Regions from separate parts of the Homo sapiens genome. Here regions 2, 3 and 4 are each linked to region 1. The links come from fine-mapping of genetic effects on gene expression. A gene starts in region 1. Each other region holds a variant in brackets. All regions are shown on one strand. Distances are from middle to middle. Region 1 holds the start of DYNC1I2 (dynein cytoplasmic 1 intermediate chain 2). Region 2 has its middle 87 kb from the start of DYNC1I2. Region 3 overlaps METAP1D (methionyl aminopeptidase type 1D, mitochondrial). Region 4 overlaps SLC25A12 (solute carrier family 25 member 12).

What was found. PIP is the estimated chance that this variant, and not a neighbour inherited with it, causes the effect.
Region 2: its variant is the best candidate, but not a certain one, in a credible set for the expression of DYNC1I2 in whole blood (INTERVAL, PIP 0.75).
Region 3: its variant is the best candidate, but not a certain one, in a credible set for the expression of DYNC1I2 in lung (GTEx, PIP 0.51).
Region 4: its variant is the best candidate, but not a certain one, in a credible set for the expression of DYNC1I2 in skeletal muscle (GTEx, PIP 0.53).

What each region holds. Positions count from the first base shown.
Region 1 is chr2:171,684,780-171,690,335 of GRCh38, reverse strand. DYNC1I2 (dynein cytoplasmic 1 intermediate chain 2) reads right to left here and starts at 2,867. Exons shown (of 18, transcript NM_001378.3): 1 at 2,709-2,867; 2 at 73-189. The coding sequence starts at 180. RefSeq lists an enhancer at 2,697-2,866.
Region 2 is chr2:171,771,861-171,777,416 of GRCh38, reverse strand. No RefSeq gene overlaps it. Among named protein-coding and RNA genes, the nearest start is that of DYNC1I2, 87 kb to the right of the region's middle. RefSeq lists an enhancer at 1,529-2,148. The variant C/T (reference allele first, on the strand shown) is at 2,250.
Region 3 is chr2:172,027,817-172,033,372 of GRCh38, reverse strand. The region is part of intron 1 of METAP1D (methionyl aminopeptidase type 1D, mitochondrial); the gene reads right to left. Among named protein-coding and RNA genes, the nearest start is that of METAP1D, 31 kb to the right of the region's middle. The variant A/C (reference allele first, on the strand shown) is at 2,639.
Region 4 is chr2:171,800,695-171,806,250 of GRCh38, reverse strand. All of the region lies in intron 13 of SLC25A12 (solute carrier family 25 member 12), which reads left to right. Among named protein-coding and RNA genes, the nearest start is that of SLC25A12, 91 kb to the left of the region's middle. The variant C/T (reference allele first, on the strand shown) is at 2,909.

The sequences.
Region 1 (5,556 bases):
TAAATATATAAATATGTGAAATAAAACCCAATTACTTTATGTTGTTTATTTAAGCAAAAAAATCAAACATACTTCTTTTTTTTTCCTTTCTTCTTCTTTTCTCTTCTTTTCCTCTCTGATTTGGGCCAGTCGCTGCTTCTTACGTTCCAACTCAGCCTTTAATTCACTTTTGTCTGACATGTTTGTGACCTTAGAAACATATAATCATTATGTTAGTAAAAGCAGCACAGTTGAAAAAACTAGTGTTCCAAGAAGAGAACTGTCCCGAAAGGCCATATAGTTCAATGCTATCTCAAAAAAGCACAAAAACCTTACTTTTAAAATAATGGGGCTGGGCAGTAGCTTACTTTGGGAGGCTAAAGTGGGAGAACTGCTTCAGGCCATGAGTTTGAGACCAGCCTGGGCAACAAAGCAAGACCCCATCTCTACAAAAAAAAAAAAAAAAAAAAAAAAGGCAAGAAAAATAAAAAATTAGGCGGCATGGTGGCATGTGCCTGTAGTCCCAACTACTTGGAAGGATTGCTGGAGCCCAGGAAGTCAAGGCTGCAGTGAGCCGTGATCATGCCACTGCACTCCAGCTTGGGCAACAGAGCGTCTCTAAAAAATAAACTTTTAAAAGATAAAATAAAGGAAGCATATATATTATTACTAAGACTTAAAAAATGTATAAACAAATATATATAATAAATATTACCTAGAGCTGAGCATAGTAGCTAGCCCATAGTAAGCACTTTAATGTTCGCATACACAAACTGAACACAATGTCTCAAAGTTTTTGATGACAATATATTAGGTACCCAAGATAAAGGTCAAAACTGGCTCTTAAAACAGAGGACATGGTTTGGCATTTAGAAGCTCTTAAGCTATATGACACAGATCAAAACTATTACCAATTCTATTGCATTCATAGAAACTTGATAAAAAACAATAGGTCAAACTGAACTTTCCTGTAAGTTCTAAAAGTGCTGTAGTAATACTAAAGCAAAACGCAGGAGTTACCATCATTAGCTATCAAATCATATGACTGTATTTCTCCACAATAACACCTTACGTATACCTCTGATGGCACTTTTAGTACAATTATTTGTGGACATACCTGAAATGTTCCCTATTAGATTGTAATGTACTTGAAATCAGGGACTGTTTTTTAGTTATTTTTGTTGCCTTCACAACATCCAGCAGAATGACCTTAACATTACAATTGACACTGGCTAATGAATAATGGATACGGTAGACACAATTACAATCTGAGCTTCAAAAACCAATTGCATAAACACTACTTCAGCTTGAGTTTTAGGAAGAAATAATGAATTAGGATTTTTTTTTTTTAAGTAGCCTAGCAGCTGAGCATAAGGCAGGAGCCAGGAACTCCTTACCTTCTCCACATGATTGACTTATTGCCTAATGATCAATCTCTTTCAATGTCTCTGTACAAGTGAAGTATTAAATGCTTTAGATCAAGAAAACTAGGAGAATAACCTCTGGAAAACTGTATTTCCAGAGGTTAGGGGAAATCTCTTAAAAAGCACAATTGTTAAATCTGAACAAAGGTAAGTCAGTCAAGAGGAGAAATTCACCTACTAAGAAGTGGATAAAGGAAATTTCAGCTACTAAACTCCATTAAGACTGGCAAGCGAATTGATAATTTTCAAGCATACGAAAAGGATGAAAAGTTGACATAGCAGACCTGAAATATATACACAATATCTTCCAAGATTTGTTTGAACAAACTAAAAGCAAGAGACCGTGTTTCTTATTCCACTCTTTCTACACCTCTAAACAGCTCCATACAAACGGCTGGTGAAGAGAACTTCCATACGTAACTGTATGCTACGCTAGGCACATTATATTTTGTTCAACGTCAACTGTAAAACAGATATACCAACACTAATTGATATTAAAATAAGCGCATTTTTAAAGCCCAACAACAAAGTCTTGACCAGCTGAACTACAGCTGACCAATCCTCTCATCCTCACAGAAGCCAGAGCCTTCCTCCATGACCGACATGTTCACGTTCTTAAAACTCAAGAGAAGAGAGTCTCTAGAGTTTTGTGCTAGAACCTCCGTGTTCGGGGGCTTTCCATCACACATAAGGTGAGGGGAGACACTATCAAGGCAAGTAGAGATGGCCTTAATTTGTAAAATGGGGCAAGGCGAAAACGAATCACTTTCTCCCCTGGGGTCACGGCCAAGAGGGCGCGGTCCACGGCAGGGCGTCCGGAAGAAGCCAGTGGGCGCCGGACAAGCCTCAAGGCTCCCCAGGCCGCCTCTGGAGGGTCGAGAAGGGAAAGGAGTGGACTCCTCTCGCCGGGCCGCAATGAGTCACCGCACCCAGGTCTCCCCGCCTTTCCTCCCCAAAGCTGGGCCGGGCGGGGATGTCAGCAGGAACTGCCAAGCCGCCCTTCGAGTTGCGACGTGGAACACAGGCAGGGAGGCCTTGAGGGAAGAACAGTCAACCCACCTGTCAGGTGACTGGATGGGGAAGAGTCCTCCCGCCTGCAACTTCCCGGTAACGTCCCTCGCCTAAGCCCCCAACACCAACTGTAGCCACCACCAGCTCCGCGGCTTTCCAAAGCACACAAAGAGGGATGGGCGGCGGCTGCTACGGCGAGAGCTTAGGGACAAATAGCCTCACCAGAACGAGGTCGCTCCCAGAAATAAAAGGTGGGGCCCTGCTGCGAGGAATTGTAGCCCCTCCGTGACTTACCTGTCGTAAAGCAGAAGCCGGTAGATAAAACAAAGAACCCAGTCAACCCAGGGGCCTTAAGTATTTCCGCTTTGCCAAAAACTGGAAAACTACGCCTAATATTCTCAGGCCAGGAATCCAACTTCCGCCCTCGCCTTACAAACTGACACGATCGAGAAGAACTACAAACCCCGGCAACAAGGAAAACCTGCGTGCGACGAGCAGTGCGTTCTGGGAATTGTGGTCGCTGGGCGTCGCAAGGTGTGCTGGGACATGTAGTGTGTCCCCTCCTTTAGATTTCCCACTCCAAGGCCTTCTTCCGTCGAGAAGCTTCTGTATAAAGTATTCTCGTCTGTTGATCCGTGCCCACAGTGTAGTATGTGTTATAGTGTAAGATCTTTGACCCAATATTGGCGGAATTTTAAGGTCTATTTTCCAGTGGTGAACCTGTGAATCACGCTGCTGCACATTTGGTGAAGACGTGAAGTAGACTGTTTAGGATGTAAAACATTATATATATATATGTACATACATATGTAAGTTTTAGGGAAAGAATGTCTTATATAGGCTTCATGTGGCATCTTAGGCAAAATCTAAATAAAAATATGTCAACTGACATAGCAAATAATTCTTTAGTATTTTGTTGCAGTGTGGTAGCATTTTGGTTTTCTCTCAAACAATTTTAGGAAATAAAGCATTTTGTATTATTGGACTCTCAAACCAAGCTAGAATGTTTTCCACAGTTAGATTTTTAACATACAAAGAAAACAAAAGTTACTGGAACATGAATTTACCTGCAATGTATACATTGACACACCTTTTTAAAGTTTAAATAATTTAAAGCATTATTTGGCAGGAGTTAAAGCTAACACCAAGGTAATATCTTTTCTATGTTCTAGAAAACTGATTGTTCTAGAAGTTCTAGATATTGCCCAAGTCTAGAATGAACCTTTATGATTCAAATTCCAAGTCCTTGGGCTTGTGGTCTTTTTCTTATCTTTCTCTGCCTTATCTGTGGTCTTTTGTGTAGAAAAAAATATTCTAAAAATAAATTTGAGAAAGAAAATCCTTGGCTTTCCACAGCTTTTCCCAATAACCTAACATTCAAAGAGCTTTATAGCTATGTTATTTTTTTACTTCTTTCCTAATAGTTTTCATGTATTAATTTGAAAAAAAATTATTATTGATTGCCTACCATGTGCCAGCAATGGTGATGGGTGTTGTGGTAACAGCTAAAATGGACCAGGCGCAGTGGCTCACACCTGTAATCCCAGCACTTTGGGAGGCCGAGGCAGGCAGATCACCTGAGCTCAGGACTTAGAGACCAGCCTGGGCAACATGGTGAAACCCCGTCTCTACAAAAAATAGAAAAATTAGCAGGGTGTGTGGCATGCGCCTGTAGTCCTAGCTAGTCACGAGGCTGAGGCAGGAGGATGGCTTGCGCCCAGGAGGCGGAGGTTATAGTGAGCTGAGATTACACAATTGCATTCCAGCCTGGGAGACAGAGCAAGACCCTGCCTCAAAAAAAAAAAAAAGAAAAAGAAACAAAAAAAACAAAAAACATAAAAATGCACAAAAATGCACATCCTTCTTCTCAAGGGAGAAAGGACACTCGCTCAACTAAGAATGGATGGTTCCTGACTGATGGTTTAACTTATGATTTTTTTCTCATTACAATGGGCTTATTAGAGTAAAATGCATTTTCAACATATATTTTTGACTTAAAATGGGTTTATCAGGACATAACTCAAGGAGCATCTGTATAATGATGGAATTATATAAGGAAGTCATAGAAACACCTGGAAAAACTTTTCAGGAAACTTTTGGAAGGAGGTGATTCTAGAGCTAAGTCTTTGATTCTCAAAGGTTGAGTAGAAGAAGTTAGCCAAGCAGAGAAGATGCAGAAAGGTGCCTTGGGAAGAGAAAAGAATATGGACAAAGGACAGAGGTGTGAGAGCATAGAATGCTGGTGAATTTGGAAATAATTCACAATGGCCGTAGGCTAAGACAGGAACTGGGGAATGAAGCCATAAGCAGGGGCAAAGTCGCACATCCCAGTTTAGATTTAGTCCTACAGATGATGTGAATCCACTGGTAGATTTTAAGAGGGTGCAAGGTATGAGAAGGTTTGCATTTTAGATGACTGGCCTTTCAAAGTAGTCCGGAGAAAGACTAATGTGCTGGTTATTTTCTTTGCCCCCCAGATTCATTTCCTGCCCTTCTTTGCTAAGCTCTATGCCTCTGAGGGTTGACCTCAGTTTCTTTAAGGACTGCTTTGTGGTTGGACATAAAGAAGGCCAAGGCAAGGATATCAGAAGGTGGGTAGAAAGGGAAATTGGGGCATCTCTTCCTTGCTCCTTCCTTCTTTGAGTGTCAGATGTCCAGCAATAGCTTCATTCCTTCATGACTACAGTACCTGCCAGATGGCTCTTTCACCATGGCTCTAGTTTTCCCCGGGCTGTCTGGTGATTTTATGTTCTCCTTTTATCTCTTGAACACCTCCTCTGTAGCTAGTCTCTGAGTGCCTCATCATCTCGTTTGTTCCCTTAATACCCGCTCACCCCTCTGTAACTTGTCCTTTCATTAAAGTATTTTCATGTGAACTATCTTGTGAATTCTGTTTCTTGTTGAGACCCTTGTTGATACAGCTTGCCTAGAGGGATGAGAGGTGGAGAAAGAGGTAAGGTAGAGACTGGAAGCAGGGAATGCAACTGGAAGAATTTGGGTAGAGCCAGCAATTATAAATGCATGAACTGATGCATCATCAGTGAGAATTAAGAAAAGTAGATGGATTGGAGAAATGTTAACATTATGTGAGACTTCTACAGCAATAAAGCAGACTAGATACCTCTTCCCACTGAAAACCACT
Region 2 (5,556 bases), 87 kb before region 1:
GTAGAGATGAGGTTTCACCATGTTAGCCAGGATGGTCTTGATCTCCTGACCTCGTGATCCTCCCGCCTCGGCCTCCCAAAGTGCTGGGATTACAGGCGTGAGCTACTGTGCCCAGCCAGTTTTATTTAAATTTTAAAAGTATTTTATTTTTAATGTCTGTAGCATTTTAAATTATATGTAATAAATGAAATAAATGAAATACATTTAATTAAATAATAAATAAATAAATAGAGACAAAGAGAAAGGGTCACTCTGCCAGCCATGCTGAAGTGCAGAGGCACCATTATAGCTCACTGCAGCCTTGACCACCTGGGCTCAAGTGATCCTCCCACCTTGGGCTCCCAAGTGTCTGGAGCTACAGGTGCCTGCCACCAAGCCTGGCTAATATTTTACTTTTTATTTTTTGTAGAGACAGGGTCTCACTATGTTGCCCAAGTTGGTCTTGAACTCAGGCTCAAGTGATCCTTGCCCCTCAGCTTCCTAATGTGCTAGGTTTATGGGCATGAGTCACCACATCTGGCCCTATAGCATTTAATATTTCTTCTTATTCATTTCTGATATTGTTTGTGACTTCTTTCTGTATTTTAATGATTCAGTCCAGAGATTGGTCAATTTTATTAGTTTTTACAGAGAACTGACTTCTGGCTGTGTTGATCCTTTTTTTTTTTTTTTTTTTTTTTGACAGAGTCTCGCTCTGACACCCAGGTTGGAGTGCAGTGGCATGACTTTGGCTCATTGCAACCTCTGCCTCTTGGGTTCAAGTGATTCTCCTGCCTTGGCCTCCCAAGTGGCTGAGATTACAGGTGCATGCCACCATGCTTGGCTAATTTTTATATTTTTAGTAGAGACAGGGTTTCACCATGTTGGCCAGGCTGGTCTCAAACTCCTGGCCTCAAGTGATCCGCCTGCCTCAGCCTCCCAAATTGCTGGGATTACAGGTGTGAGCCATCAGGCCCAGCTATTTCGTTAATTTTTGCTCTTATCTGTTTTTCTTCTATTTTCTTAGGCTATTTTGCCATTCTTTCTTTTCTTTTTTTTTTTGAAACAGAGTCTCATCTGTCATCCAGGCTGGAGTGCAGTGATGCAATCTCGGCTCACTGCAACCTCCGCCTCCTGGGATCAAGTGATTCTCCTGTCTCAGCCTTCTGAGCAGCTGGGATTACAGGCACCCCCACTATGCCTTGCTAATTTTTGTTTTTTGGTAGAGACGGGATTTCACCATGTTGGCCAGGCTGGTCTTGAACTCCTGACTCCAAGTAACCCACCCACCTCAGCCTCCCAAAGTGCTAGGATTACAGGTGTGAGCCACCATGCCCTGCCTACCATTCTCTTTCTAACTTCTTGAGATGTCTCTCTCTCTCTCTCCCTCACCCTCACTCACTCTCTCACTCTCTCTCAGATAGGGTTTTCACTCTGTTGCCCAGGCTGGAGTGCAGTGACATAATCACAGCTCACTGCAGCCTTGACTTCCCAGGCTTAAGTAATCCCCCACCTCAGCCTCCCAAGTAGCTGGGACCACAGGTGTATGACACCAAAGCCAGCTAATTTGTAATTTTTTTTTTTTTTTTTTTTGGTAGAGATAGGATTTCCCTATGTTACCCAGGCTGGTTTCAAACTCCTGGGCTGAAGGAATCCTTCCATCTCAGCCTCTTAAAGTGTTGGGATTACAGGTGTGAGCCATTATGCCCAGCCCCTCATTATTATTATTTAAAGAAAGCTAGGACATTTTCACTATTTTTTTAAGAACTCTTTTCTAATCATCATATGCTAGAAACTGAGAAGGAACTCTTCATTGATTATTATTTCTTCTTGGACTCATGAGTTATTTAGAAGAATGTTTCTTAATTTCAAAATTTGGGAAAATATATATTAGTTTTTTTTGTTTTTGTTTTTGTTTTTATTGATCATTCTTGGGTGTTTCTCCCAGAGGGGGATTTGGCAGGGTCATAGGACAATAGTGGAGGGAAGGTCAGCAGATAAACAAGTGAACAAAGGTCTCTGGTTTTCCTAGGCAGAGGACCCTGCGGCCTTCCGCAGTGTTTGTGTCATTGGGTACTTGAGATTAGGGAGTGGTGATGACTCTTAACGAGTATGCTGCCTTCAAGCATCTGTTTAACAAAGCACATCTTGCACCACCCTTAATCCATTTAACCGAGTGGACACAGCACATGTTTCAGAGAGCACCGGGTTGGGGGTAAGGTCACAGATCAACAGCATCCCAAGGCAGAAGAATTTTTCTTAGTACAGAA[C/T]AAAATGGAGTCTCCTATGTCTACTTCTTTCTACACAGACACAGCAACAATCTGATTTCTCTATCTTTTCCCCACATTTCCCCCTTTTGTATTCGACAAAACTGCCATCGTCATCATGGCCCGTTCTCAATGAGCTGTTGGGTACACCTCCCAGACGGGGTGGCGGCTGGGCAGAGGGGCTCCTCACTTCCCAGAAAGGGCGGCCGGGCAGAGGCGCCCCCCACCTCCCGGACGGGGCGGCGGCCGGGCAGAGGCTGGCCCCCACCTCCCTCCCGGACGGGGCAGCTGGCCGGGCGGGGGCTGCCCCCCACCTCCCTCCTGGACGGGGCGGCTGCCGGGCGGAGGGGGTCCTCACTTCTCAGACGGGGCGGCTGCCGGGCAGAGGGGCTCCTCACTTCTCAGACGGGGCGGCTGGGCAGAGACGCTCCTCACCTCCCAGATGGGGTCGCGGCCGGGCAGAGGTGCTCCTCACATCCCAGACGGGGCGGTGGGGCAGAGGCGCTCCCCACATCTCAGACGATGGGCATCCGGGCAGAGACGCTCCTCACTTCCTAGACGGGATGGCGGCCGGGAAGAGGCGCTTCTCACTTCCCAGACTGGGCAGCTGGGCAGAGGGGCTTCTCACATCCCAGATGATGGGCGGCCAGGCAGAGACGCTCCTCACTTCCCAGACGGGGTGGCAGCCGGGCAGAGGCTGCAATCTCGGCACTTTGGGAGGCCAAGGCAGGCGGCTGGGAGGTGGAGGTTGTAGCTAGCCGAGATCACGTCATTGCAGTCCAGCCTGGGCAACATTGAGCACTGAGTGAACGAGACTCCGTCTGCAATCCCGGCACCTCGGGAGGCCGAGGCTGGCGGATCACTCGCGGTTAGGAGCTGGAGACCAGCCCGGCCAACACAGCGAAACCCCGTCTCCACCAAAAAAACACGAAAAGCAGTCAGGCATGGCGGCGCGCGCCTGCAATCGCAGGCACTCAGCAGGCTGAGGCAGGAGAATCAGGCAGGGAGGTTGCAGTGAGCCAAGATGGCAGCAGTACAGTCCAGCTTCGGCTCGGCATCAGAGGGAGACCGTGGAAAGAGAGGGAGAGGGAGACCGTGGGGAGACGGAGAGGGAGAGGGAGATATTAGTTTTTATTATTGATTCCTAACATAATTGCATTGTGGTCTAAGGACACACTATCTATGATTACAATCCTTTTGAAATCCTCTTGGCTCCATAGATCGTCATTTTAAAATAAATATTGCATGAACACTTACAAGAATATGTATTCTGCTATTGATGGGTACTCTGTGTGAGGGCATGTGTGTACTCACTACTTTCACACATGGCATTATTTGGTCAAGTACAGCAATTTATTTAAAATGTCTATATCCTACTTTTTGTTTGCTTGTTCTGTCAATTGGTAAAAAAACAAAAAGCATGTTAAACTTTCCTATTATAATTTTGTATTTTCTATTTCTCCTTGTAGTTCTGTCAATGTTTGCTTTTTACATTTTAAGGTTATGTCATTAGGTACATCAAGACAAATTAAGAGCTTCCAGATGAATTGATTCTTTTGTCATTGTCTCTTTTTTTAATCTCTAGTAATGCTTTTTGTCTGAAAATTTATTTTTTGATATTACTGTAACTATATTTTTCTTTTTTAATATTTACAAGGAAAATTTTCTCTGTCCTTTTATTTTCACATTTTCTCTAATTTGAGGTATGTCACTTATAAGCAGCATATATTTGCATTTTTAAAAAAGTGTAGTCTGACTTCACTCTTTCAGTGGAAGCATTTTAGTTCATTTAATGTAATTACAGATATACCTTATTTGTATTTAAGTATAACATTTCATTTTGTGATTCCTTTGACCCATCTCTACTTATTTTTAATATATTCTTGGGTGTTTTAGAGCAATTATTTTTATTTTTCTATTCTTTTCCCACTGTTTGGAGTTTATGTACTTTGTTTATTGTTTTAGTAAATCTATAATATGCATACTTAATTTTCTAAAATTGAAGTTGGATTGATTCACTCTGCTCTTTTTTATATAAGGATGTTAGTACACTTGAAGACTTGGTATTATCCTACAGTGCAAAAGCTGCTTAAATGCTCACCTTACTGCTCTAGGTTCTGGCTTTTCCTTAGATTGCTGACTTATATTCTCAGCTTTTCAGTGCTTTGAAAATTTTAAACAATCTAGCATTTTTAGTTTTTAGTGCTGATACAAATAACATAGCCTGCCATCTTCCTAGGAATGAAGTTCCCTATTTGTGTGCTTTCTGTGAACTGCCTACTTTTAAATTTTAAATAGGGTTTACAATTTTTTTCTTTATTGACTTATAGACATTCTTTGTTATCTGGATATCAACTCTGCAATATTTCTACCAACCCTTTTCTGCGCATATAATTTTTTTTAAAAAAAATTGAACACAGGATGAGGCGGCAAATCTTTTTTTAAAAAATTAATAAACTTTATCTTTTAGAGCAGTTTTAGGTTCATAGCAAAATTGAGTGGAAAACAGAGTTCTTATATACCACTTTCCTTTCCCCACACTTGGACACCCTTCCCCGAATCAATATCCCACACCACAGTGGTGTATGTTTGATGAACCTACATTGACTCATCATTGTCACCCAAAGTCCATAGTTTACATTAGGGTTCACTTTTGGCGGTGTACATTCTATAGGGTTTTTTCTTTTTCTTTTTCTTTTTTTTTCTGCTGTGATCACTTGGTTCTAATTGATAGGTTTTGACGAAGATATAAAGACGTGTGTTTATCATTGTAAAAAATAATTTAATTGCCCTAAAAATACTCTGCTCTGCCTATTCATCGCTCCCTTCCCCCAATTCCTGACATCCCTCCCTTCCCCCAATTCCTGACAACCACTAATCTTTTTACTATCCCCATAGTTTTGCCTTTTCCAGAGTGTCATATACTTTGAGTTACGCAGTATGTATCCTTTTCAGATTGGCTTCTTTCACTTGTTTTTTTGTTTTGTTTTGTTTTGGTAGAGATGAGATCTCACTATATTGCTTCGGCTGATCTTGAACTCCTAGGCTGAAGTGATCCTCCTGCCTCAGCAGGAATATCAATTTAAGTTTTTTGTATGCCTTTTTGTGGCTTCATAGCTCATTTCTTTTTCATGGTGAATAATATTCCAAAGCCTGGATGTACCACAATTTATTTAGACACTCATCTACTAAAGGACATCTTGGTTGCTTCCAAGTTTTGGCAATTATGAATAAAGGTGCTATGGACTTCTCTATGCAGGTATTTGTGTAGACATGTTTTCAGCTCATTTGGGTAAATACCAAGAATTGC
Region 3 (5,556 bases), 340 kb before region 1:
CAAAAAAAAAAAAAATTAAACAAATGTATTATTAAAATAGGAGCCAAATAAGGTCTATTGTACTTGATTGCTATGTCTCTTATGCCAGTTTTAATGAATTCCTCCCTTTTTTCTTTCTCGTAAATTATTTGTTAAGAAAATGAATTTGTCCCTAGCACTTCTCACATTCTGTAACTTACCAGTTGTATCTTGGTGGTGTCAATTAATATGTTTCTCTGTCCTTTGTATTTCCTGTAGACATATTAAATCTAGGGATTTGTTCTGATTCAAGTTTGATTTTTTTATTTTTATTTATTTATTTATTTATTTATTTAGAGATGGAGTCTTGCTCTGTCGCCCAGGCTGGAGTGCAGTGGTGTGATCTCAGCTCGCTGCAAGCTCCACCTCCCGGGTTCACGCCATTCTCCTGCCTCAGCCTCCCGAGTAGCTGGGACTACAGACGCCCGCCACCAGGCTCAGCTAATTTTTATTTTTAGTAGAGATGGGGTTTCACCGTGTTATCCAGGATGGTCTCCATCGCCTGACCTCGTGATCCACCTGCCTCGGCCTCCCAACGTGTTGGGATTACAGGCGTGAGCCACCACGCCCGGCCTCAAGTTCAATTTTTTTGGCAAGAATATTTAATGGACAGTGGTGTGCTCTGATAGCTGTGGCTCTTTTTGTGATGTTAGCAACCATTGATGACCAGTAGATAGATTCATTATTTCACGAGGGGTTTGCCAAATGGTGATATTCTCTCAGACCTTCTTAATTTGTTGGCAGAAATACTTCTAAAAAGAGAAACTTTCTTTCATCAAATATTTGGTCATCCTGAGGTTCAGTTCCATACAGGATATATCAAGTTAAGGGCTTGATTCTTTCCTTCTACTTAACCAGTTTTCAAGAGTGAGTTAAAAAATATAGGGCTTTCAACAACAAATTCAGTGTTCCTAATCAGAGATTACATAAAGTATCTATCTAGAAGATGATCTATTTCTATCTAAATGATTTCTACAGGGAAGGTTGAGTCAAGTGAAACATAATTTCACTTTGAAATAAGAATACTAATCAGAATCCAGTAAAACAGAAACATTTTACTGATTTTATCATAAAGTAAAACTATTAATCTCTCAGACTTAATAAATCACGTATCTTTTCTATTCTTTTCTTCTCACACTTTTATTTCGGGAGTGGGATGAGGCTGGGAGATTAGAGGTAACAAGATAAGACTGCAATTTAAAGGGGGAAAAACTCAACTCCAAATGGGTTTTTCTTTAAGAAGGAAACCCAAAACCAAAAGAAAACAGGTAAAATTAGCTATTGAAATTATGGCTATGTGAATCAACCCTTGCTCCCTACATCTGGCAGCATTTAGCTCCCCGAGGGCATGCTTGGTGCCCCAGGGCACCGTTACACATGTTTGACCAGCCGGGCAACAAGAAAGGACGCAGAAACTATGAATAGAGGCAGCAGGTAACCATCAGGCCGACCAAATGGCTGAGGCACTTTGACAAAACACACAATGAAGCAACTGGTTATTCCCATGGCTGAAAAGTCAACGACGTAGGGCTTTATTTTGGGATTCGAATTCCACAACACTCCTCTTTAAGTCACTGGGTTACTTCCTTGTTTAAATCAGGTCCTCAAATCCTCCCTTTTCTTTCAGACACTCAGTGAAAAGCATCAGAGATGAGCTGTATAAAGCTACTTTGTATTCTTGCCAAAAACCCATCTGAGAATTCAACTAGACTGTTTTCTGGACTCTACTCCAAGTCTGTGCAGGAAGTGAAGGTGCCAAATTATTCTGGAAACACTTTGGTATTGTGCTCAAAAAGAGAGAGAAAGCATATGTGAATGACTTCCTCCATCTTATTATATAATATCCATTTTACAACTGAGATAAGTCTAGTGCTATAGTTTTAAATATGGCTCCCCTCTAACTAAACATTTTATTATTATAAAGGACAGGCTTTGCCCACCTTTCCTACAACCTAAAGCCCTCTTTTGGAGCCCCTGGTAGGGGAGTGTCTCCCTTCTCTCCCACCAAGATCCCTACCCTCTGCTCTTCCTCTGGGGTCTTCACCAAGACTACTGAAAACATACCCAACTCATTCCTTCTAAAGCAATCTTGGCAAAACCCAGAGTGATAACTCCTATTAAACTAAGCCTTTATGAGGATACTCCATTAACCCAAAGAAAATTCTAATACGTAGTTGGACATTTTATGTTCCAAGAAGGCTGTAGGGGACATATTTTAGGGCCAGTGGACCTTTCCAATTATTTCAAATTATATCATTTGTTAATAATAACCTGTTTTATAAAAATATGACACTCTGGGGGAAAATACTATAAATGTCTTTAGTCTCCCAATAAAATATTTCTGAATTATGAATTTTTAAAAATGATGAGTACTTGAGAAAATTTTCCTAAATTATCATTTCCTAAATTATCATTATCATACCTAAAGTCTTTACTTCTGAAAAGTAATTTCTTAAAACTACACAGCAGGATGACATTTTTAATGTATGAGACATACATACATGTGAGTGAGCTTAACTGTAGAATTAAGACATTCTTTAACAACTGGTTCACATACAACTAAATATTTAGAGAAGCTAAATATATTTCCAATTTTAAGTACAGAAGAAAGTTAAATGAA[A/C]GACTTTCTTAAGAAACAGTATATTTCCTGCGAATTGATGTCGCTCCATGGTCTCCAATTTAAGACAAAAGCAGAAACGTAATTGCTGGCTGCATTCCTATTGCTCATGACTTTATTACAAAACCAGAAGCAAATCAAGGATTTGAATTTAGAAAGATGCTTTCCAGTGGTAAAGGCTGAAGATAGGGTTCATGGGGTAAGAATGCAGAGATTTTGTTTAGAATATCCCTCTATAACATGGTAGCAATGTTGTGTCACACACCCTTGGACCTCGACCCTTACTTCATGCCTACTTTAGTTCATTTCCACCTCTGCAATACATTTTTTTAAAAATGTAGGCTTACGCCAGGTGTGGTGGCTCACGCCTGTAATCCCAGTATTTTGGGAGGCCGAGGTGGGCAGATCACCTGAGATCGGGAGTTCGAGACCAGCCTGACCAACATAAAGAAACCCCGTCTCTAATAAAAATAAAAAAAAATTAGCCAGGCATGGTGGCACATGCCTGTAATCCCAGCTACTCAGGAGTCTGAGGCAGGAGAATTGCTTGAACCCAGGAGGTGGAGGTTGTGGTGAGCCGAGATCACACCATTGCACTCTAGCCTGGGCAACAAGAGTGAAACTCTGCCTCAAAAAAAATAAATAAATAAATAAATAAAATAAAATAAAATGTAGGCTTAAAGGCCGGGTGCAGCGGCTCATGTCTGTAATCCCAGCACCTTGGGAGGCCCAGGCGGGTGGATCACTTGAAGTCAGGAGTTTGAGACCAGCCTGGCCAACATAGTGAAACCCCATCTCTACTAAAAATACAAAAATTAGCTGGATGTGGTGGCGCATGCCTGTAAATCCCAGCTACTAGGGAAGCTGAGGCATTAGAATTGCTTGAACCTGGGAGATGGAGGTTGCAGTGAGCTGAGATGGTGCCACTGCACTCTAGCCTGGGCAACAGAGTGAGACTTTGTCTCAAAAAATAAATAAGTAAGTAAGTAGAAATAAAAATAAAATGTAGACTTAAAAATGAGCCTACATTAGGGATCATGAGTTTGAGGCGGTTATTTTTGTGGGCTATAGTTTTTTCATTCACCTGCTTTTCTGGAAAATATTTGCTCACCACAGATGCTCATGTTATGGTAACTCTAAGACCAGAAAACAATCCCTATCTCTGTTTCGCTGTAATATTGACAGTTTCTCTTAGTCAGGCTTTTGTCTATATACTATTTTGTAAATGGGCAAGAACTAAAATGTGCTGGGGATTTTAGGTATATCTTTTCACAAAAGTATATTTTAAAAGCAAATAAATAAGTACTTCTTCTTTGAGACAAGGTTTGGCTCTATCCCTTATGCTGGAGTGCAGTGGTGTGATCTCAGCTTACTGCAAACTCAGCCTCCTGGGTTCAAGCAATTCTCCCACCTCAGCCTTCAAAGTAGCTGGGACCACAGGCGTGCACTACCACAGGCACATGCCACTAGGCCTGGCTAATTTTTCTATTTTTAGTAGAGACAGGTTTTCACCTAGTTGCTCAGGCTGGTCTCAAACTCCAGAGATAAGCAATCCTCCTGCCTCAGCCTCCCAAAGCGCTGGGATTACAGGCGTAAACCACCATGCCCAGCTAATAAGTACATTTATAACTACTGGCAATAGTAAGCAGTACTTTGAAAGGTGACACATTCTCTCTAGAGTCTCAGTATCTTTGGGTTTGTTATGGTTTGACCATGCATGTCTACTGAATTCTTATTCTTCTATTTTCCTACTTTGTTCAGTCTCTGCTATATTTTAGAAGACTAAAAATGGTGTGTAAAGATGCTTTAACAATAAATACATAATTAAAGTAACATACTAATCATGGCAAGTTTATGAGAAAATCAAGAATCAAGTTAGAATACATTTTTAATGTCCTTAAATTATTACAGGGAATTCATAGGTATAACAGACATTAAAAACAAGCACTCTCCTTCCTTTTTTATTCCTAAGAAACTAATTTTCCATCACAGCTTCACATTTTTGCATGTCTAAATTTGTTATATAGTTCGTGGCAAACCTTATTTTTCTTTATAAGTCTTCCTTTCAGAGATGACCAAGATATTATTGGTAAATGAAAAACAAGTTGCATATTATATACACAGCATGTTACCACTAAGAAAACACACACACACACACACACACACACACACACACACACACACACACACACACAGACACACATACAGAAGTCTGCTCATGTGTAGGAAAAAAAGTCTAGGTGAGAATAATTACTAAGTTTTCCTGCTTCAAACTCTTCAATGTTTATCCACTGCTTTTTGAACATAGTTTCAACTTCCCATTATGGCCTTGAGGGCCTGCAATGGTCTGACCCCACCTCCCTCTGGCCTCCTGGCACTCCACCCTCCTGTCACTCACTGCCGCCAGCCACAGGGGCCCCCTTTCTGCTCCTCAGAGACACTAAGCCCTTTCTGGGCTCTGCATTTGCTCTTTCACCAAGTTCTCACATCACTGGCCCATTCATGGCCTTTGAGCCTCAGCTCAAATGTCACTTCATCAGCAGGCCTTCTGGGACCTCTCTCTCTAAAGTGGTCCCCCCTAGTTACTGGCACCCTCTTAGCTTTGTTTATTTCCCTAAACGCACGTTTCTCATTTTGAAGTTATCATGTTTGTTTGTCTAATTGCGTCTATTGTTTCCCCATCAGAATGGCAACTCCGTGAGGTCTGAAACCCCAGCCCCCACTAGTACCAGGGGACCTAGCACATTTAATCCCTCACCAAATCAAGAGACTTGCAGCTGAGGGATCTGGCCCTCCCTTTCTTTAGGTCTCTTCAGTCTGGTGAAATCCTTGTCACTTTGCACCTGAATTTTCTTCTTTCAGAGTTTAACTTTTATAGTTTAGACTTTACTTTCTTACCAAAAGAACTTGTCACATGAGCA
Region 4 (5,556 bases), 120 kb before region 1:
CGACCTCAGGTGATCCACCGGCCTCGGCCTCCCAAAGTGCTGGGATTACGGGCGTGAGCCACCACACCCGGTCTTTATGATCTGTTTTTAAAGGCATGTGATTTTTGTTTTTTTGTTTGTTTGTTTTTCTTCTTTTTTGAGACAGGATCTCAGTCTGTTGCCCAGGCTGGAGTGGCGTGGTGCGATCTCAGCTCACTGCAGCCTTGACAACTCCTGGGCTCAAGGGCTCCTCCCATCTCTCAGCCTCCCCAGTAGCTGGGACTACAGGTGCATGCCACCATCCTCTGCTAATTTTTGTATTTTTTGTAGAGATGGGGTTTCATCATGTTGCCCAGGCTGGTCTCGAATTCCTGGGCTCAAGCAACCCACCTGCCTTGGCCTCCTAGTTTTGGGATTACAGGTGTGAGTCACCAGGCTGGCCAAGGCCTGTGATTTTTGATACATGCAAAAGAATACAAACAATATAATTACAGAATAATAAAATGAGCATCCATGCTTCTAGCACCCAACTTAACTAAAACGTTACTACTATTGTTGATGATGATTATTGCTTTTGATGTAGCTTGAATCAGCTAATGAGGAATAGATACCTTTCTTACTGGGCTGAACATTTTATAGGGATTATCTCATTATTGTTCCCAACTAGAGTTGAAAAAACTAAAACCTTAGTGAAATCCAAATTTTGACTTAGTAAATATCAAAATTGTGGTTCAAACCACTTCTATCTCCAAATCCATATTCTTTCACACTTGATATAGGTTTTCATTTGTTCTTTCATATATTCACTTACTCATTGAATACCTGATATCTTTCATGCAAATTTTAAAAATACCACCTTTAGGCCGGGGGCGGTGGCTCACGCCTGTAATCCCAGTACTTTGGGAGGCCGAAGCAAGTGGATCACCTGAGGTCAGGAGTTCGAGACCAGCCTGGCCAACATAGTGAAACCCCGTCTCTACTGAAAATACAAAAAAATTAGCCAGGTGAAGTGGCGCGTTCCTACAGTCCCAGCTACTTGGGAGGCTGAGGTAGGAGAATCGCTTGAACCCAGGAGGTGGAGGTTGCAGTGAGCTGTGATCGTGCCACTGCACTCCAGCTTGGGCAACAGAGTGAGACTCTGTCTCAAAAAAAAAAAACAAAAAACAAAACAAAACAAAAAAACAGAAAAAATAACAGCTTTATTGAGATATACTTAACGTACCATACAACTCCCCCATTTAATGTGTATAATTCAGTGTTTTGTTGTGAAACCATCACCACAATCAATTTTAGAACATTTTTATCAACACAGAAAGAAATGCAGTACCTTTTAGCTATCACTTCTCAATCTTCCCATCCCATCCGTAAGATCTAGGCAACTGTATTGCCCAGGCAGGAGTGCAGTGGTGCGATCAAGGCTCACAGCAACCTTGAACTGCCGGCTCAGGCAATCCTCCCACCTCAGCTTCATGAGTAGCTAGGACTGCAGGTGTGTGCCACCACCCTCAGCTAATTTTTAAGTTTTTCATAGAGACAGGGTCTTACTTGGCCAGGCTGGCCTTGAGCTCCTGGCCTCAAGCAATCCTTCTGCCTCCTCCTCCCAAAGTACTAGAGTTACAGATACGAGCCACTGCACTTGGCCTCTAGGCAACTATTAATATACTTTCTGTTTTTACAAATTCACCAATTCTGAATATTTTATATAAATGGAGGCTGGGCGTGGTGGCTCATGCTTATAATTCCAGCACTTTGGGAGGCTGAGGTGTGTGGATCACTTGAGGTCAGGAGTTTGAGACCAGCCTGGCCAACATGGTGTGAAACCCCATCTTTATAAAAAATGCAAAAATTAGCCAGGCGTGGTGGCAGGTGCTTTTAATCCTGGCTACTTGGGAGGCTGAGGCAGGAGAATCACTTGAGCCTGGGAGGCGGAGGTTGCAATGAGCAGAGATTGTGCCCACTGCACTCCAGCCTGGGCAACAGAGAGAGACTCTGTCTCAAAATAAATAAATAAATAAATAAGGAATCATGATATGTGGCCTTTTGTAAGCATGACATTGTGCCTAACTTTTTTCACTTAGCGTGTTTTCAAGGTTCATCTGTGTTGTAGCATGTATCAGTACTTAATTCATTTTTATTGCTGAATATATGGATATACTACAGTTTGTTCATTCATTAGTTGATAAACATTTGAGTTGTTTCTACCTTTTGACTTATGAATAATGCTGCTATGAATATTGGTATATAAGGTTTTGCATGGACATGTTTTCATTTCTCTTGGGTATATACGTATGAGTGGAATTGGTGTGTCATATGACAACTGTAATTAGCATTTTCAGGACTGCCAGACTGTTTTTCAAAGTGGCTACATCCTTTTGCATCCCTACTAGTAGTGTGAAGCTTCTGATTTCTCTACATCTTTGCTAGTATGTGTGTGCGCGCGTGTGTGTGTGTGTGTGTGTGTATTTTTTTAAATAATGGTAGCGTCTCACTATGTTGCCCAAGCTGAGAGTGCAGTGACTGTTCACAGGTGTGAACATCACATGCTACAGCCTCGAACTCCTGGCCTCAAGTGATCTTCCTGCCCCATCCTCCTGAGTAGCTGGGACTACAGGCATGTGCCATCATGCACAGCTACTTTCCACATCTTTGATAACACTTCTTATTGTCTTTTTACTATAGCCATCTTACTGAGTGAAAAGTGATACCTTATTGTGGCCTAATGACTGACAATGTTGAGCATCTTTTTGTGTGCATATTGACCACTTGTATATCTTCTTTGAAAAAATGTCTATTCAGAATTTTTGCCTATTTTTAAATTGGATTGTTTTTTGGTTACAGAGTTCTTTGTATATTCTAGATATGAGTCCCTTTTCAGATATTTTTTATTTTCTTGATGATGTCTTTTGAAGAATTGGGCTTTAATGAAGTT[C/T]GTTTAATCTATTTTTTCTTTTGTTGTTTGTGCTTTTGGTGTTATATCTAAGAAGTCATTAATCCAAGATCATGAAAGATGTATGCCTTTTTTTTCTGGTATATAGAAATTGACTTTATATGTATGCCTCCTTTTTTCTTTTCAGAGTTTTATAGTTTTAGCTTTTACATCTAGGTCTTTTCCGATTTTTAAGCCTAAGTTTTTTAGGTTTTTTTTTTTTGCCTTGAACAGAGAGAGATATTACTAAATGTCAGTTTTGTTTTAGTTTTGATTGCTAATGTTTTGGTGTATTTCCTTCTAATGTTTTCATATACATGTGTACATGCTCTTATGCATAGACATATGTGTGCACATGTGTACACACACACACACACACACTTTTTAAAACCAGATGGAAGTTTTGTTGACTCTGACTTCCTGATTGGAAATGCAAGCAACTCTCACTTACTACAGGAAAGAGGGAGTCACAGTGGAATGTCTTATTTTAGAAGTAGTATATAACCTTTGGGAATAGTAGTATAAACAGATTGTGCATTTTCAGATTTTTATTTTTATTTTTATTTTTTCGAGACAGAGTCTCGCACTGTCGCCCAGGCTGGAGTGCAGTAGCGTGATCTTGGCTCACTGCAAGCTCCGCTTCCCGGGTTCACGCCATTCTCCTGCCTCAGCCTCCCGAGTAGTTGGGACTACAGGCACCCGCCACCAGGCCTGGCTAATTTTTTGTATTTTTAGTAGAGACGGGGTTTCACCGTGTTAGCCAGGATGGTCTCGATCTTCTGACCTCGTGATCCACCCACTTCAGCCTCCCAAAGTGCTGGGATTACAGGTGTGAGCCACAGTGCCTGGCCCATTTTCAGATTTTTAAATCTCATTGTGAACATTAACCAAACTTGTGTTTTGTATCTATATCAAAATCTTCTCAAACAAACTTACTCATTCAGAATTTATGATAACTTGGATGTGCTATCCCAACATGTTTTTTGTTTATTTGTTTGTAGTATCTATAAATTGAACTCTAGGTTAAATTGCCTGACCTTGGCTAGGTGTGGTGGCTCATGACTGTAACCTCCACACTTTGGAAGGCTGAGGTGGGAAGATGGCTTGAGCCTAGGAGTTCAAGGCCAGCTTGTGCAACATAGTGGGACCCCCCATCTCTACAAATAATAATAATTTTTTAAAATTGCTTGACCCTTTTTTAGGTGGAGATGGGGTAAGATTGTATGTGTGTGTATACAGTTGCTCAGTAAATATCTCTTATGAATGTTGAGTGTTGTATGAGTATTAAATATGTAACAGTAGGTTTTAAATAATTTTTCCTGTTATTCTCATAGGTAAACCATTCTTATCAGACCATATGTTTATTTTTCTATTAGAAAATTTCTGTCTTTCTGTACACACACACACACACACACACACACACACACACACACACACAGATCCAGATATTCCTCGACTTCCAATGAGGTTACATTGTAATAAACCTATCATGAGTTGGAAATTTTTAGGTCAACAGTGCACTTAATACACCTAACCTTCTGAATGTCATAGCTTAGCCTATCCTACCTAAAACATGCTCAGAACACTTATGTTAGCCTATAATTGGGCAAAATCATAAAACACAAAGCCTGTTTTATAATACAGTATTGGATATCTCATGTAATTTATTGAATACTGTACTGAAAGTGAAAAACAGGCTGTATGAGTACTTGAAGTATTGTTTCTACTGAATGCATATTGCTTTTGCACCATTGTAAAGTCAAAAAACCATAAGTTGTATCATTGTTAAGTTGGGGACCACCTGTATATATGTGTTTATATATAATATTTATATGTACAAATGTATGTTTATTCGAAGACACAAATATAATTGAATGTTTGATTATGATATCTATTGTGGGCAAAAATAGTACCTTAATGTCAACCTAGAATTTTCAAAGTACATTATTATGCATTATTGTCACCCTCTATAAAATAGGTAGATGAGAAACAGAAGTCCAAAAAGGCTAACTCTCTTACCCCAATTTACACAGCTAATATATGCTGGAGGTTTCATGTGAACCCAAGTATTCTGATTTTTTTAGACCAAGTCCTTTTATTCTATGATGTCCTTTTGGGGGAATCAAATCATTGATTGTGTCAAAATAAATCTAGATGACACTATTCAACTTTATAGTGACTTTCTTGCCTCTTTCCTTCCTTCCTTTAATAAGTGTATGAATATGACATATTTACATATTTGGTTTTTTAGGTATAATTAACATTTTTAAAAGGAACAGATTTTAGATATTCAGCTCAATGAGTTTTGACAGTTGTATACACCCATGTAATCACCACCTAAGATAATGAACATTTCACCCCAGAAAAGTCGTTCATGCGTCTTTCCATTCAGTCCCTTCTCCCTTACCCCATGCAACCACACTTCTGATTTCTGTCTGAAGTTTTGTTGTTCTTGGATTTCATGTAAATGGAGTGCACGAGATGCATTCTTTCATGGCTGGCTTCTTTTGTTTAACATGTTTTCAGAGAGTCATCCTTGTGTGGGTATCAGGTTTGTGTTTGTTTTAAATTTTGCTGAGTAGTATTTCATCGTACGAATTTACCACAATTTGTTTATCCATTTTTCTCTTGATGGATGTTTGGGTTTTTGT